2 separate regions of the Homo sapiens genome follow, and region 2 is linked to region 1. A link means that fine-mapping ties the variant in region 1 to the expression of a gene that starts in the linked region. Tissue or cell type: whole blood. Region 1 holds a variant in brackets; the other region holds the start of a gene. All regions are shown on one strand. Distances are between the middles of the regions.

Region 1 (8,426 bases):
CAGGAAAGTCCATTTTCTTCTATGGATCCAGTGGTCACATTTCTTTAGAAGAGCAAGCAAATATCATGACTACTGGGAATTGCCTGCATTATATTCATAACCAGGTACAAGACAGTTTATTTCCTAAGTAGTTAAGTGCAATGAATTCATCTTAAGTCCTTAAAACTTCCCATGTGAACTCTGCACAAAAGCACTTCCGTGAAGACGTTCTCAATATTTGGAGGAAGAATTCGTAAAGAGTTAATGCTTGAATTAATTCAATTGGTCATTAATTTCCTATGCAGCTAATTGCTATTGATGACATTAAATGCCAACCTCATCATTGCTTTGTCTTGAACAAGGGCAATGACATCAGATTACCCCTGGCTACAGCTGGCCTCACTGGCAGCACCCGTGGGACCAAGCGGATACGTGTGGAGCCTGTGCACCCCTCTCCAGCCGCCTCCTGCAGGTGCATCCCGCGCTTCCTTCAGAACTCAGGTGGTGTTCACTTAGCCTTCCGTCAGCTCCTTTTGGATGGACAGGGTGGACTTCCTCTTTCTCCCTCTTCACCTTGTATCCACTTTCAATGAAATGTCCATAGCAGATTATGTGTCTAAACATTTGTTTTCCACATTTGATGGTGCACTTCTTAAATGTGGGTATTAAGTTTCTCCTAGCATTTGGTATGATGGCCAGACTCTAGTATTGCTGAAAAGATGTCTGAGCAATAGATGCTCATGGAAGGGAGAGTGTCATCGAGGCAGATGCCCTAAGAATGTCTTTATGGAGAAGGGAAGTACTAACCTGGCCCGAGGTGATGAGTAGTAGCAAAGAAGGCTAAAAACGGAAGGGAGAGAAGCCCAACACAGGAACCTGTTTCCTGAATATTGGAACGGCCAGAGCAGGACACCTCTTCCTGACCAAACAGAACAGAGGCTTCTACCTGGAGAACATGGATGTCTTCCAAAAGATCTGGGGATGCCCACCTTTAGGGTGATTTAATAAGAAATTAAGGGCAGACAAAATTCTCTGGCATTTTCTTCATCATGATGACTCTGAGGTGTGTCCCACCCCGCGGTGGGTCAGAGCGGGCGTGTGCTTGTCACGTGCTCACCCGTGTCTCCAGCGCCCAGAAGTGCAGGTTGCATGTGCTACACTCAGTAAACACTGGCCAGTTTCACAGATAAACTCAGGAAGACACGAAGAGTCACATTATTTTCTCTGGAACAAGTAAGTCTGAAGCCCAGTTCCCATCACAGGGAGATTTTCTCCCAGTCACCACTGGAACTCACTCAGCCTCTACCCAGGGTTACCCAGGGTCGGCGTGGATCATGACACCTTCAGGAGGGAGACATAGGGTGTGGATCGCCATGTAGGAATTTCACGTACTGGGATAGAGGAGCAGGAAAAAACATTCTATCTTAAAACTGGAGTTTGCAGCCTCTGGGGGACGGCTGACGTGGAACCGTGATGGTGCTACCGGCATCTGCTATGTTACCCTCGTGCCTGCTGTTGTGTGTCAGGTTTTATATGTTAATAAATTGTTAGGATTATAAAAACATAATATGCCATAAAATGGCAACAATATGAATAGGAGAAAGTAGATTTTTCATCAGAAGACCCAGATTCAATCTAAATTGTCTTCCTTAGGAGTCGAGTGTGACTGGGCGACTCGCTACTTCCAACCTCCATTTTTGCACGTTCTCACCATCCCATAATATTATGAGAATTAAATAATAGAATATATATGAAATATCTAATGGAATATTTGGAAGCAAATATTTGCTCAATGATATTTTGAATAAATAAATTAATGGATAATAAACATACAATCATAACACCATAAACAAAACCTACAGAACAAAAGCATTTCTATCCCAGATATTAAAAGTCCCTGTTGTAGATGAGGACAGGTAAGTGGCCTAAGGTCATTCCCAGGCTGGGTCCAAATAGAACAGTGTTCACGCCACGCAGACACCAGCAGGCGTCCCCTGAGAGGTCCCTGCAGGCACCTCAACACCTGCAGATGCCTCACCCTTCACCTGTGGCCCCAGAACGCTGTGGAAAAATGACTTGACAGAAGCACAGGGACAAACATGGGGTTTCAAGGCCATCGGAAGCCCAGAGCAGCAGCTAGACCCGAGGAACTCGGCCATGGTGGCTTTTGAGTGAGGAAAGAGGAGTGGCTGAGATTTGACTGGGGTCATTGTTCAGCGGTCATGTGGGCTTAAGGGGTGAGTACAGGGAGGGATAGTTGCGTTTACGCATAAATCAAAGTGGAGAGTGGTCTGGCCCCTTCAAATGTGCACACACACAGCATTCAGCATTTGCATTTTTAATTCCTGTTTCCTATGTTGCTTCCCTTGGAAATGATTTTTAGTTAATACTTAAAACAGACACTGCCCAGGTACAAGCAGCTTAGTCAATGCTCCATGTCTGAGGGAGGATGGTTTTTGCCTGCCCTCCAAGAGTTTCCCAGAATATCCAGTGTTTCTTGAGTGCGATAAGTGGAGCCCAAGTGGAAAAATCTTTCCCATGAGGAAGCGATGGGTCGGCAGCTCCACGCGAGACTCACACCATTGCTGAGTTTCCACACATTGACTCCACCACGCCATGTTCCGTGGTCATCAGAGCAGGTGTCTGTCCTGCGGCCCCACTTTGCACTCCCCTCACTAGAACCTTCGTATAGTAAAGGCTTCAACTTCACTGAAGGTCTTCTGTGTTTACCATCTCATGATTAATTACCAAGGGAGAATAAGAGGTGGATTTGTCAGCTGGAATTTTACTCAGGCCTTTAATTTTGAAAATTAAAAGTTTTCAAATGATTTAGAACATGTTGAGGAAAAAAGCCATGTCTGTTTGCAGATATTTTTGTGTGTTGCTCATGCCTTTCTACCAAAAGTACAAGCCTTTTCAGGGTCTGTGAGCCCGCCAACCATTGCAAAATAATTCACAAATACACATTTAAGATAAAAAACAAAACTGGCCGGGCATGGTGGCTCAGGCCCGTAATCTCAGGGCTTTTGGAGGCTGAAGGGAGAGGATTGCTTGAGGCCAGGAGTTCAAGATCAGCCTGGGCAACATAGCAAGGCACTGTCTCTACAAAACGTATATAAAAAATTATCCAGCCAGGCGTGGTGGCTCACACTTGTAATCCCAGCACTTTGGGAGGCAGAGGCAGGTGGATCACGAGGTCAGGAGTTCAAGACCAGCCTGGCCAAGATGGTGAAACCCTGTCTCTACAAAAATTAGTTGGGTGTGGTGGCGGGCACCTGTAATCCCAGCTACTCAGGAAGCTGAGGCAGGAGAATCACTTGAACCTGGGATGGTGGAGACTGGAGTGAGCTGAGATCGTGCCACTGTATTCTAGCCTGGGCATCAGAGCAGGACTCTGTCTCAGAAAAAGAAAAAAAAGAATTAGCCAAGTGTGGTGATGTGTACTTGTAGTCTCAGCTACTCAGGAAGCTGAAATGGGAATATCTTTTCAGCCCAAGAGTTTGAGGCTGCAGAGAGCTGCTATCACGCCACTGCACTCCAGTCTGGGCAACAGAGAAAGGCCCTGTCTCAAAAATAAAATAAAATAAAATAAAATAAACAGGTGACAACTCAGTTTTAAACATTTAAGCCAATGAAAACCCTAATTAATAGCTATTTTATAACTGGAATTAACTAAAGTTCTACTGCACTGATCTAGATGTCAGCAATACCTGAGTTAAAGCCCATTTCTAGGACTCAGGTAATATTAGTCTATGAATTTAATTTATTCACCTGTAAACTAGAAATAATGTGTCAGACCACACGGGGTTTTTATGATCTAAGTAGATGACAGACATAAAAGCAACAAGCATAATGTCTCACCCGAAGTAGAATTCAATATTATTGTTTGTTTTTTCTTTATCCTTCCTCTGAATTTAGGCATAAGTAGATAAAGCACAAGAAAATTACCTGAGCTTTGAAACTGCAAACAGAAGCCACCATTTCAGAGCATCCCCTTCTGCACCCAGCACTTCCTTCATCAGCTGCACCTCCCTCACTGATGTGGGCGAGCACCCTGAGCCTTTCAACACCCTGCATGAAAAATCCATTACTTCACTAAGTCATATTTGCCAAGGCAAGGAAGAGTTGGCCCAAAATATTTCCTCCTGAGAGAGGACTTGTCCCACCCACATCAGATGTAAGACACCCATCTCATTCTGTTTTGTTCCTTTCAAAGGATTTGCTATTATTTGTAACTATGTTTTAGATAAAGGTATTTATTCTTCTTTCCCCCCAGTGCGAGGACAGGGAAAGTGTGATCTGGACCCTGGTGTCACCAGCCCGGTGTCTGGAGCACACGAGATAATAAATGTTGAAATCATGAGTGAACAAATACAATGTATAAAATTTCAGTAAATACTGTTTATTTTTTAAATTTTGCCATAATCTATACAATAA[A/G]TATTAACCAATGATGGATCTTTTCTTTACAGAAGGTTACCAAACCAGTTTGCATTTGTTGACTTCGTTAGTGGAGGCTCCTCCATAACGAGCTCGTTAATTTTAGGCCACCTTGCGTGGCTTTGGTTGACACTCAGTGTGTGACAGCTAATGTGATGCTCCCTGAAAAGTATATCGCAGAGTCTCGCAGAATTACGAGGAAGGCAACGGAGCTCCGCAGCCCTGCGTTTAACCTTTATTTATTTATCCATCATAAAATGTGGGGCTTCTCCAGTTCCAGACAATATCTGAAAACTAGAGTAACAAAGATTAAGGGGACACACACAGCCTCTATGCAGACACGCTGACATACGGAGCTCAGCCCTCTATGCAGACACACTGAAATATGAAGACACCCACAGGCCTCTATGCAGACACGCTGACATACGGAGCTCGGCCCTCTATGCAGACACACTGAAATATGAAGACACCCACAGGCCTCTATGCAGACACGCTGAAATATAGAAACACACACAGCTCTCCATGCGGACATGCTGAAATACAGAGCACAGCCCTCTATGCAGACACACTGAAATATAGTCATTGGCAACTAAAATACAGTGTGAACACATCCAACAAAATGGGCGCACAGGGAGTTATGACAGGAACTTATGACAGCAAACGGCACATGGACCCACAGGTCTGATGATCTCTGGCCATCCCAAAGGTTGGGCCACTCCCTACCATATGCACCTCTGCTGAAGCAAGTTGAGAACTGACTCGCCGGGAGGGAGTCGCTGGCCAACGTGAGGCCAGCCTTGTGCACAGAGCGCGCATGGAAATGGTGCGGGTTCGCCGTCTCGGGAGTTGGATACGACTGCCATCTTTTTATAAATGAGAATTGCAGGATCATCGACCATTGTGTACTCACACATTTAAAGATGTGTAAGTCTTAAATAACCCTTTGGGAATATTAAGGAGCTGTCACAGGGGTTCTCAATTTTGGATGTGCATAAAAACACTTCTGTAGTGATTTTAAATGAAAGTGCCTGGTCTCAACTAACACCTGCTGAACCAGAATTGCCACGGTTTGGGTTTGAGAATCTGTTTTTTTGTTTTTGCTTTTATAAGTTTCAGAAGCAAAAGTGAGGGTCGCTGGTTTGCAGGTGATTGAAGGGTTTGGCCACCTGTGGGCCATGATGTCATTGTTGTTGGTGGTGGTAATGGTGAGGTTGGGGCTGTGATGTCGTTGTCATTGGTGGTAGTGATGGTGAGGTCAGGGCTGTGATGTCATTGTCATTGGTGGTGATGGTGAGGTCGGGGCTGTGATGTCGTTGTCATTGGTGGTGATGGTGAGGTCGGGGATGTTATGTCATTGTCATTGGTGGTGGTGATGGTGAGGTCGGGGCTGTAGCATCGTCATTGGTGGTGGTGATGGTGAGGTCGGGGCTGTGATGTCATTGTCATTGGTGGTGGTGATGGTGAGGTCAGGGCTGTAGTGTTGTCATTGGTGGTGGTGATGGTGAGGTCAGGGCTGTGATGTCGTTGTTGGTGGTGGTGATGGTGAGGTCAGGGCTGTAGTGTTGTCATTGGTGGTGGTGATGGTGAGGTCGGGGCTGTGATGTCGTTGTCGGTGGTGGTGGTGATGGTGAGGTCACTGTAGGAAAGCCCAGCAGAATGGCCCTGAAGCGTGGGCTCCGTCCCCGATATGCCTTCCCATGATCTCTTTTCCTAAGGAAAAATCCGAATAAATGAAGGGTGAAGGCAGCCTTGAAAATGAAGCAAATTATAAAGGTAAACTATAGGCGAAAACTTCAGGGGAGTCTAAACGTTTTATCTCGATGATTAATGGGTGCCTTGGGTAGCATTCTCTACATGTCTTAGGGCATCAGGAAACAGAACTGCCCTATTTTTTCTCAGAGATTTATTCATTCAATGAACATATATTAAGTACCAAGTATTTCCAGGTCTTATTCCAGTGATTGGAATTCAATAATACACTTACTGACAAATTCCCCTGTGTCTGTAGAACTTACAATCTGATGGGTAATAAAACAGGTCAGTAACAATAAAAATTGCAATAAATAAGTGGAGTAGGAATTAAATGATAAAAGGTACTATGTATGTAAGAATAAGGGATCCTGGACACAGTTGTGAGCAAGGCTGCGAGGCTAAGTGTGCAGTCAGGGTGGGCATCCCTGTGGAGGTGACGTCTGAGCCTCCATTACACTCAGATGTGGACATGAGCTGCCTCGGAAAGGAACATTCCAGAGAAAGGCACAGCTAGGGTAAGGCTCTGACCTGTGTCCTGCATGCTCAGTGAAGCTGTTTGGTTCAAGTGGAATGAAAATAAGGAGAATAAAATTTTTTTTAAGTATCAGAATTTGCTCAGATGCCATCTCTACAGGTCATGACCCAGCTCTGGGAGAGCCTTGGCAATCTGCTTTAACTAGGGAAATGCTGCAGGGTTTGAGTAGAGAAGGGGTCTGGCCTGACACAGCAGATATCTGGCCAGTGTTGAGAAGGGAGTCTGCACATTCGTCAGGAGTCCAGATGGAGATTATTGTGACGCAGGCCAGAATGGCTGAGGTCACGAGGGGTGGCTGAAGTTTGGGTACATCTGAAAGGTAGAGGCAATACGATGTCCTGATGGATTAGAGCTGAGGTTGAGAAAACAGATGAGTTAATGACTACGGCATCGCTCCTTTCTCCTGAGGATCTGAAGGTGTTGTCCGCGGAGCTGCTGTGACGACAACACCCCACATTGTTCCCCATACACTCAGCCTCCCTTGCTGTGGGTGAGGCCACGTGGCCATTTCTGGCCGATAGACTGCAAGGGGAAAAGCTATGCCACTTCTACCAAAGCAGGTAGAACAGAGCACATCTTCACCTTTGTGTCCTGCCCTATGTGAGGACCTCAGAATCCTCACACAGGGAGCGTGCAGCTGCTGCTGGTGGAGCCCAGCAGACAGACCCCGAGTGACTGTGGATTCATGAGTTTCTGTCATTAAACAATGTAATTTTTTAATGTGAAAAATAAATTGTGTGTTTTTATAATTAAGAAACAAATTTTCCAAAACGCAAAACATAACATTTGTTGGTGGTGGGGCGGGGGGAGGGGGGTGAAAAAAATATTAAAACCAAAATGATGCTGTGGTTTTCTGTGGCTGAACCTTTTTGTTCCACCGGTAGTTTTCATGCATTGATTAGTTTTTAAGATTTCTGAAGGATGCTCTAACTCATGAAGCATACAAGAAACCCCATGATAAAAGAAGTCAGGAATATTAAAGTTAAAATCTCTAAATAATGTGATAATATGATGATGAAAAAATTAAATTCATAAAAACTGACCCAGGATTTACACAGATATAGAATTATCAAATACATTTATAAATTACTATACCTGAATTAGGTATGTCCAAAAGTTAAGTAGAGACACTCATGATATATAAAAGACTCAAACCCAACTTCTAGAGGAAAAAAGCTACAACGTTTAAAATGAAAACTACAGTGGATGGGAGGAACAACAGATTACACATTGCAGAAGCATATAGGCATGAAGTTGGAGACACAGCAAAAGAAACTAACCACAATGAAACACAAAGTACACACAGTCAATGTACATAGAAAAAAAAGATGCTATAGGAGAGAGAAACAGAAAGAAAGAAAAGAGCATCATGATCTGTGGACAAGTCCAAGCAACCTGATATATTGGTAATTGTCATCCATAAAGATGGAGAAAGATGCTGAAAGCAGATGCTTGGAGAAAAATGTTCCAAGTTACCAAAACAGAGACCATATAGCCAAGACAATCCTAAGCAAAAAGAACAAAGCTGGAGGCATCATGCTACCAGACTTCAAACTATACTACAAGGCTACAGTAACCAAAACAGCATGGTACTGGTACCAAAACAGATATATAGACCAATGGAATAGAACAGAGGCCTCAGAAATAACACCACACATCTACAGCCATCTGATCTTTGATAAACCTGACAAAAACAAGCAATGGAGAAAGGATCCCCTATTTA
Region 2 (8,207 bases), 200 kb before region 1:
CGATTCGGTGCCATCATCAAATGATGTTCACCCAAATGTCGAGTGAATGTTGGTAACTCCCAGAGTTGATACTCAGAATCTTGACAGTGGAGGGTCACCTTTTTCATTAACACTAATGCGGATTATTGCAAAATAACAGGCCATGCACTGATCTAGGTTTCAAGTCCAGAGAAGTGAATGACATGCAGTTTCTTTACAAAGTATAACAGATAAAACAGAATTAAAACTTAGCAGTTTAGCAGTTAGCAGACTGTGAAGTTTAATAGTTTTTGCACTAAAAATATAACTTTACATTTTACAAATGTTTAGAACAGTATCCCCTAAATAAGAAGCATACTCACTTTCTTAAATCCAAAGTCTTTGCTAAATTAAAATGTAGCTAGTTTATAATCATATTTATAGGATGTAAAAATGTAGACTCCTTAAAAAGCAAACTATTTTAACATGTAATTCTAATTGCAAAATCACATCCTCATATTCACAGCATTGTTAACAGTATTTATTAAAATGTGCAAGGGGAGAAAACAGGAAGGTTCAGGCTGATGGGGTGAAGAAGCAGCACGGTCCCTGGAAGGCAGCCAGAAATGGGTGAGCTTTTGGAGGGCCTTCTTGTTCAGAGGGGCAGGGGATGAAGAGCCACAGGCTGGGGTCAGTCCTCAGGTGAGGGATTACACCCACATAGGGGAGCTTAGCATTTAATACAGAAATAGGAAGGATAACCTCGGCTTCCTGAATTTTACAGGGAACTTTAGTATGGACTGGGGGAAAGTGACATCTAGTGTTAGCTGAAAATAATCCAAAGTCGACTATTCAAAACTACAGTCATGACAACATGCGGTAACCAGCTGGACAACAATGACAAGTACACACCAGTTCAAGGTCCATTTTCCATTAAATCCTGAGTGCATTTTTCCTCCAAAAGCATGTTTTCCACCTTCCTTGTTGTGTCTCACTCAACAAAAATACCTCTAGAACTAATTAAAGAGTGAGTTTCTGAGGGATTTGGAATCAGATACAAAGTGACCTTCGGAACCCAAGCACACATTCCACAGGTGAGAAGCCAGAGCCAGAGAGGATGGTGGTTCCCGAAGCCGGGGTTCTCTGAGTTCCCTGGAACCCTGATCTCCCTCCTTCCTTCTCCATTTCCACGAGCACCTGCCTGTGTCCGCCCCATGCCCAGCAGCGCAGGAGCTAGGGGTGCGCAGCAGAGCCTGAGAGCAGCTCCTCTTTGGGGTCCCTCGTGTGCCTGCTGTCACATGCTACATGAGCTAACAGGAAAGCCAGAAAATCACACTGCTTAGTAAGTCTATCCTGAATATACCCATTTAGTAAATAGGAGGCCTGCGATGCAAACACACCCTCTGTCACCGAGAACTGCAATGCCAGCCCCTCTGCCAACTCACTCAGAGCCTCATGGGGTATCTTGAGAAGCAGATCTAAATTAAAACTGAAGCTTAAATGCCTTGTCTACAGTCATCATCCATAAAGATATCCAGAGACAAGAAGCTGTTGCTCCACATACACCATTCAGAAAACAAGGCAATTTTAACATCCCATGTTGGAAAAAAACAAAAACAAAAACAAGGCACACTTTTCTTAATTGGACCTCATTCAAATATTTACTGGGGAACATGTCTCCATGTCTCCTGGTAAAGTCAGGTAACTGCCTGCTTTGTAATGCATGGATTTTGCTTATGATGTCATAGACGTCAATAGAAATTCTACAGTTGAAATTAAAGATGAGTCAGCAAGGATGAGAAACATAACCAAAGCATAGAAGGAATGGGGAACCTTCTTAGGAGCTCAGATGCTTCATTCATCTCATGCAGCAATTCACATCTGTAAACAGATGATTAGGTGGTGCCCTTACCCCACATGCACCTTTAAAATGACCTAACGTGCTTTCCCCCTTCAGTGGGCAAGCTCATCACATAAATGGGCATGTTCCCGGCTCATGCCAATAATTCTTCCAGCGCCCCAGACTGAAGAAGTGTTGTCATTTAAAAGCAGCAAATGTGCTGTAAACATCAACCAATAGTAGTCTTTGAAGCTACAAGCAAGACACACTTCGCACATTGTACTGAGGTTGTCTGCCAGTGGGATTTTACCCCTCAAATCCAGGTATGGTCAGAGACAGAGCTCCATGAACTCACTTAACTTAGAAAAAAACATCGGGAACAGGCACTTGAAAGGGGAAACAAAACAGGTCTGTTACCGAACAGGAGACCTTCAAACGTGGCCAAATTCCATGATTCAAACAAGCAGTCATGATAAAGAATGTGTATAGTTTTGACTTCAGATAGAAAAAATATAACTAGAAATATAAGATTTAGAAAAGACTTTCATCTTTTTCTAGTTAAAAGCACCAAGTTCTCTTAACTGAAATGATTAAATAATTACACAAGTTGAATAATATTGTGCAGTTATGGTAAGAAAATAATTCTGCCATTAAGTAAGGATGACATTGTATACTAAGAACATTCATGTTTTCAAGACAAACCTGCCAACACCAATACTTAACAGATTCGTTTTAAATACATAAGAATCTGAGCTAACATGACCATGCACTGGTGTCTAAGGTAGGCTTAGCACATACCTAATTACTTATGACTGCAAAGTTAGGAGTCTTGCTCTTAAAATGCTCCATCTTATTGTAATACTTGGCCTCCAACGCTAAAAAAAAAGTTTCTTTCAATACAATTCAGACAGGCTGTTTCAAATAATCAAGGTCCTTATTAGAAAGAAAGCGCCAATCACATCTTGTAGCAAACAGGTGAGCAGAGGCCACTCTTGACTGGAAAACATCAAATTTAGCACCTTAATTAATACTGAGCGCAAAGGAGAGCATTTACTAGAATACGCGCAGTTGCTTTATTTGTTGACGTTATTGCCAATAACTCATCAAGTGGGTCAATCATGAAGTATGATGAATCCACTTCAACGCTTCCGCTATAATTACAATGATTAAAAGCAAGAATTGCTTTGCTCGAATGTCTGGAGAAAAATGCACAATCCCTAACCGTGGGAGGGCATCATTATAAAGCTGAAGGCAGTGACCAGACGGAAAGCCTGTGATTCCACAGCGCCTGCAGTTTTTACTGCGGTTTATTTCCAGGTAATCCCCGCATATTTTCTCGGGTTTGATTACCATGGGCAACAGTGGGATAGCTATTCATATTACAAAGTACTTCAAGAAACGAACACCCACATTTTACATGAAATTTAATTTTCATATTTTGTAGTAAAAGCCCAGAAAGGTGCTACTTGAATGAAGATGCACCTGTCTCTACATAGAAATCTTTTTAACATCACAGTAGCGACGACCACAGTCCTAGTTTAGAATCATTATTATGACGATAGGAATTTGTAGCAGCCCTCAACCCGTGGCCTTCTGAACCGTCTCTCCACTGTCCTATAAGGGAGGGCTAACTGTATTCCTGGTCGCTCCTGGGACTGGGAGCTCCTGGGGAAGGAATCCTAAAGGAGTGGTTGTCAATGCATTTTCATTAACAGCCGCGCTTCTCGGCAGCCTCCTAGGGCTGGGGTGGCCACGTGCTCCCTTAAACTGTTTTCACAACTCGAGGCTGTGCTGTGGGTGGCAACTTGAAGGTTTCCAAGAACTTTTCGTTTTTCTTTGGGCCAACATTTCTGTTTTCTGTCAATCAATAGTTTAGTTATTTAAAAATAAGAAGGTGAAGAGGGAGTTATTTAGGGTGGGAACCAGAATAGACTTCAAAAAAGAAATCCGTATTACCCAGTTGGCGTCCCAGCGGTTCCCCGAATGGCCTAGAGCCCCCAGCACCTGCCGAGGCCGCGCCATGCACCTGGCTGGGCTCAAACTGGCCAACTCAGACCTGGCCTGGGCGCCCGAAGGCTGCAGGGGGGACGCTCCGGTCCGAGCCACCGCCTGGGCCCGAAAGAGCCGCTCCTGGGAAGCAATGCCGGGCCAATCTCAAATCCCAAATTCTGGAAAGCACTACTTCCCACGCAGTAAAGGGAAGCCCGGGCGCCTCAAAACCAAACCTTGGAAGACGCTGGAGGAGCAAAGCCTGCAAGTTTCCAGTAAGACACTGGGCTGGAGGGAGCAGAGCGGCCAGGGGGCGGGTGCCCACTGCGTCCCGGGGCTCCGGCGCCCACCCTCCGGCCAGCCGTCCCCGGAGACAGGGAAGGGGTCGCGGGGAGCGAGGGGGCGTGGAGGGAGGAGGGGCGGGGGGAGAAGGGCGCGAAGGAGAGGGAAGGGGGGCCGGAGGTGAAGGGGCGCTGAGGGGCCGCACTCACCCGCGCAGGTACCAGCAGGCAGCCCTGGCGTCCGCGGGAGGCGGCCGGGGGCGGGGGTCCCTCGGTGCCCATCGCCGCCCCTGCGGCTGGGTCCGCGCTCCGGGCCGGCCGAGCTCAACGCCAGGACCCCGTCCGAGCCTCCCAGGGCCCCGCCAGGCGCCGCGTCCGCGCCCGCGCCCCTCTGCCGGCTCCGGCTCGGGCTCCACCGGGGCGCAGGGCTGGGGAACCGGAGCTCCGCCCGCCGACCCGGAGCACCGCCCACGCAGACCCGCCCCGGGCGAGGGAGGGGCCGGGCGCGCACCCGCGGGGAGGGCGGCGAGCGGGGATCAGCCGAAGTCGGGAGAGGGGCGCTTCCACGGGGCGGGAAACTGGCGCGCGACTCTGGGGGAAGTGCAGGATGGGGGGACAGGGGCGCTCCCGCGGGGGTGGATGGGGGACCATAGCGGGGCTGGCGGGGCAGGGGCCGGCGCACGAGGCTGGAGGAGGGGAGCGCGCGCTTCTACCCGGGCTGGGTCGCCGAGGTCCGCGGCGCATCGTGGCGGCGGTGGGCGGAGGGGGGCGGGGGGCACCTCTTCTCCCTTGTGGCGCAGGTGGGCGCGCTCTGGACCGGCTTGACGACCCCTCCCCGCCGCCCCACCTCCCTGGCCAAAGGTTCTCAGCTTCTAATCAGGGACATTTCTAGTCCACAGCCTCGAAGCCATGGGTTCTCCCCGGCCCTCTGAAGCCGCCACACCTGTGCCAGCCGGCCGCGTCCTCAGACCTTTCCCCGCGGAGTCTTCCCAGCACTTGGAGACGCAGCGCAGGGCCCCGAGGACGGCCTGGCCCGGAGAAAAGATACCGAAGCTCCAACTTTCCCCAACCCCGCTCCCCTCCTCCTTCCACCCTCCCTTCCCGCCCCCAAAGCTCGGGGGTCCTATCCCTCCTCCGGTCCGCGGAGTCTCCCGAACCCTGCGGGGACCCGGCGCTCGGCGGTGCCCTCCTGGGGCGCACGGGGCTGGGGCGGGAGCGAGGAGACCAGGTGGGGAGGGGACCCCAGATCTCAGACGCCAGGGGAGACGGCGTTTCCCGCTGTTCATTCAGGTTTGTGCCAAAAGGAGCCTCACAGATGCAGTATTGGGTTTGGTAGACTCAAATCGTCTTGTTTTAATGTAAATGAAAGTAAGTTTAGGATAAATTCCAGTGCGGCGGGGGCAGGCAAGGCTACCCACATTTTTTAAAAAGAAGCCAGCCCGTATTTTTCTCCCTTTCCAAATCCTCCGCCCCCCAGTCCTTCGACCCAGGCACGAGCGCCCATCGCGGAGGCCACGATGCCCGTTTTATTCCCTCTCCACGGCAAGGAAAAGCAGCGAAATCTGAGGTCTTCAGAGGTTAACCCTATCTAGGAGCAGAATGTGACGCATTGTAAACAAATAAATATTGAAAACTCGATGTTAAACACTTTACTTTTTCTGACTCCGACTTGCTTGACCCCTGAGCAGACCTGGGTTTCGAACACAGACGCCCTTCCCCATTTCTCTATTCTCTGTATTCCTGTTTCACCTTCACGGCAGTCTGCCAGCACTTCTTAGCACTCAGTTTAACCAGAGGACAAGCTCTTGAATAGCAAAAACCAGGTCTTTTTATACGTGGCACAGTGGCTGTTACAAAATATGCTTCTTGGGTGAATTGGTAAAAAATATTGTATTACTTTTTATTTGTAGCAAAACCTAGAATAAGAAAAAGTACAAGAGATTATTGTTTGCCTTTAAATTGCATTTTTAAAAGAGCGTGCATATAATCTCTGAGAAATTAAATGTCTACAAATAGCACAAAGATATTGTCTCATTACCTTGCAAAGGGACATTCTATTCCAGGGCCTGAAGAAGGAAAAACAGCGTGTTGCATGCATAAATGTTGACTTTGAGAGACAAGTTTTTGTTAAAATTTTATCGTTAAATGAATAGACACATATATTTTTGTTTTTCAGACCAAAGGTAATTGTTAATTCATTTGTAAAATAATGTAGTTTTGGCTAACAATCTCTGGAATCCTTTCTATAATAAAATTTTGTGATTCCAGGACGTCGTAGGCGCTCTGGGGCTGCTTTTGAAAGGCTAATTAATTCAAGTTTTAACTGCCTATCTGCTTTTATGCATCTGTGTCAGGACTGCACGTAAGGGTTATTTTGCTTATTTTAAATACTAGGGTTCTACTGCAATAACAATAACAATAAAAAGTAAAACCCTGACTATCCTGAAACTCTGCGAGGGAATGTCCCCCATGAGGTTACCAAAATTCAACTTTCTGGTTTTTGTGATGAGTATAGCTTTGATTCTGAGATGTGTCTAAAACCAGTTGCAGTTAGTGTCTCTTTATTAACTTTTAACTTTGAAATAATTCTGAATTTACAGAAACTTTCTAAATGTAGTACAAAAAACTCCAGTAACCCCTCATCCTCATGGGTATGTTCCAAGACCCCCAGTGGCTGCCTGATACCGTGGATAGTACTGAACTATGTATGTGTGTATATATATGTATCAATTGCATGCATATATATATGTATCAATTGCATGCATATATATATATATATATATATGCATATATATGTATGCATCAATTGCTGACCAAACTGATGTATGTGGCCTAGACAAACTGGAAGATGCCCTGGTCAAAAGGCAGGAGCAATGAGGTTGTATTTCAAGGTAAAAATACAACCTTGAGGCCGGGCACAGTGCTTCACACCTGTAATCCCAGCAATTCGGGAGGCCAAGGCAGGTAGATTGCTTTGAGCTCAGGTGTTTGAGACCAGCCTGGGCAACATGGTAAAACCGCGTCTCTACAAAAAAATACAAAAATTAGCCAGGCATGGTGGCATGCACCTGTGGTCCCAGCTACTAGGGATGCTGAGGCTGGAGAATCCCTTGAACCCTGGAGGCGGAGGTTGCATTGAGCCGAGATCATGCCACTGCGCTCCAGCTTGGGCGACAGAGTGAGACCCGGTCTTAATAATAATACAACCTTGGCCTTGTCATTTTTATAGTCAACATATTCAGAATGGCCAGGTACATTGTCTGTTACTAATGAGACTTTATATTCCAACCTTCCCCCTTCCAAGGCTTTGGGAGGAAGTACTGGTGGAGCCCTTCCATAAACATGGTGGTTACCACTCATGCTTTCTGGTTATGTTGCCTGAACACAAGCAGGTAACGTTTGTTTTTTGAGCATAAGTGTTCCTCTGTGTGTGCAGCACACCTGGCTTGGCCACACGTCCTACAGCATTGCACACGGCACAGGGTAAATCAGCCCTTCAGTGTTTTATGCCCTGGGGCCTTCTTTGCCCTTTCAAGAACGTAGGTTCTGTTGGGTATCTTCTTCCAGAGGAGCCTGGTCTCACTGCAATTGAAGACTTGCTTTGGATGGCATCCTTTCCCTTTAATCAACTTCAACTCTGCCGGAAATATGGCAGCAGCTTCTTCACTGGCAAACACAGCCTCTCCAGTTTTTTGGTTTTTGGTTTTTGGTTTCGTGACAAGCCCACTCCTAAATCAGTGTAGCTATGCCTCACTTGCCATGAATGGCTCAGTGTCACTCACTTTGGGGGACTGACTGCTGAAGTCTTCCCATGGGATTGTGCTTTCTGCGCTGACGTGCCCTCGGTGGGAACACCTTTCCGCTCATGTCTTCTACCTACAAGTTCAGCGTCTTTTCCGTCTTAAATAGGCACTTATCACTCACTGCAGCCGTAACGTTTGCAGTTTGAAATGTGATAGCAAAACTAGCATGATTTCTTTTTTATTTTTATTTTTATTTTTATTTTTATTTTTTATTTTATTTATTTATTTTGAGATAGAGTCTCACTCTTGTCGCCTAGGCTGGAGTGCAGTGGCGCGATCTCGGCTCACTGCAAGCTCTACCTCGCTGGTTGAAACAATTCTCCTGCCTCAGCCTTC

What was found. PIP is the estimated chance that this variant, and not a neighbour inherited with it, causes the effect.
Region 2: it holds the start of SNTG2-AS1, and the variant in region 1 is fine-mapped to the expression of SNTG2-AS1 in whole blood (TOPMed, PIP 0.96).

Annotation. Positions count from the first base shown.
Region 1 is chr2:745,358-753,783 of GRCh38, reverse strand. LOC105373480 (a long non-coding RNA gene) reads right to left here. Exons shown (of 5, transcript XR_007086128.1): 2 at 3,928-4,050. Among named protein-coding and RNA genes, the nearest start is that of TMEM18, 72 kb to the right of the region's middle. The variant A/G (reference allele first, on the strand shown) is at 4,417.
Region 2 is chr2:947,140-955,346 of GRCh38, reverse strand. SNTG2-AS1 (SNTG2 antisense RNA 1) reads left to right here and starts at 3,955. Exons shown (of 3, transcript NR_136151.1): 1 at 3,955-4,062; 2 at 4,961-5,436; 3 at 5,546-5,713. SNTG2 (syntrophin gamma 2) reads right to left here and starts at 4,498. Exons shown (of 17, transcript NM_018968.4): 1 at 4,279-4,498. The coding sequence starts at 4,350. RefSeq lists a silencer at 4,460-4,589.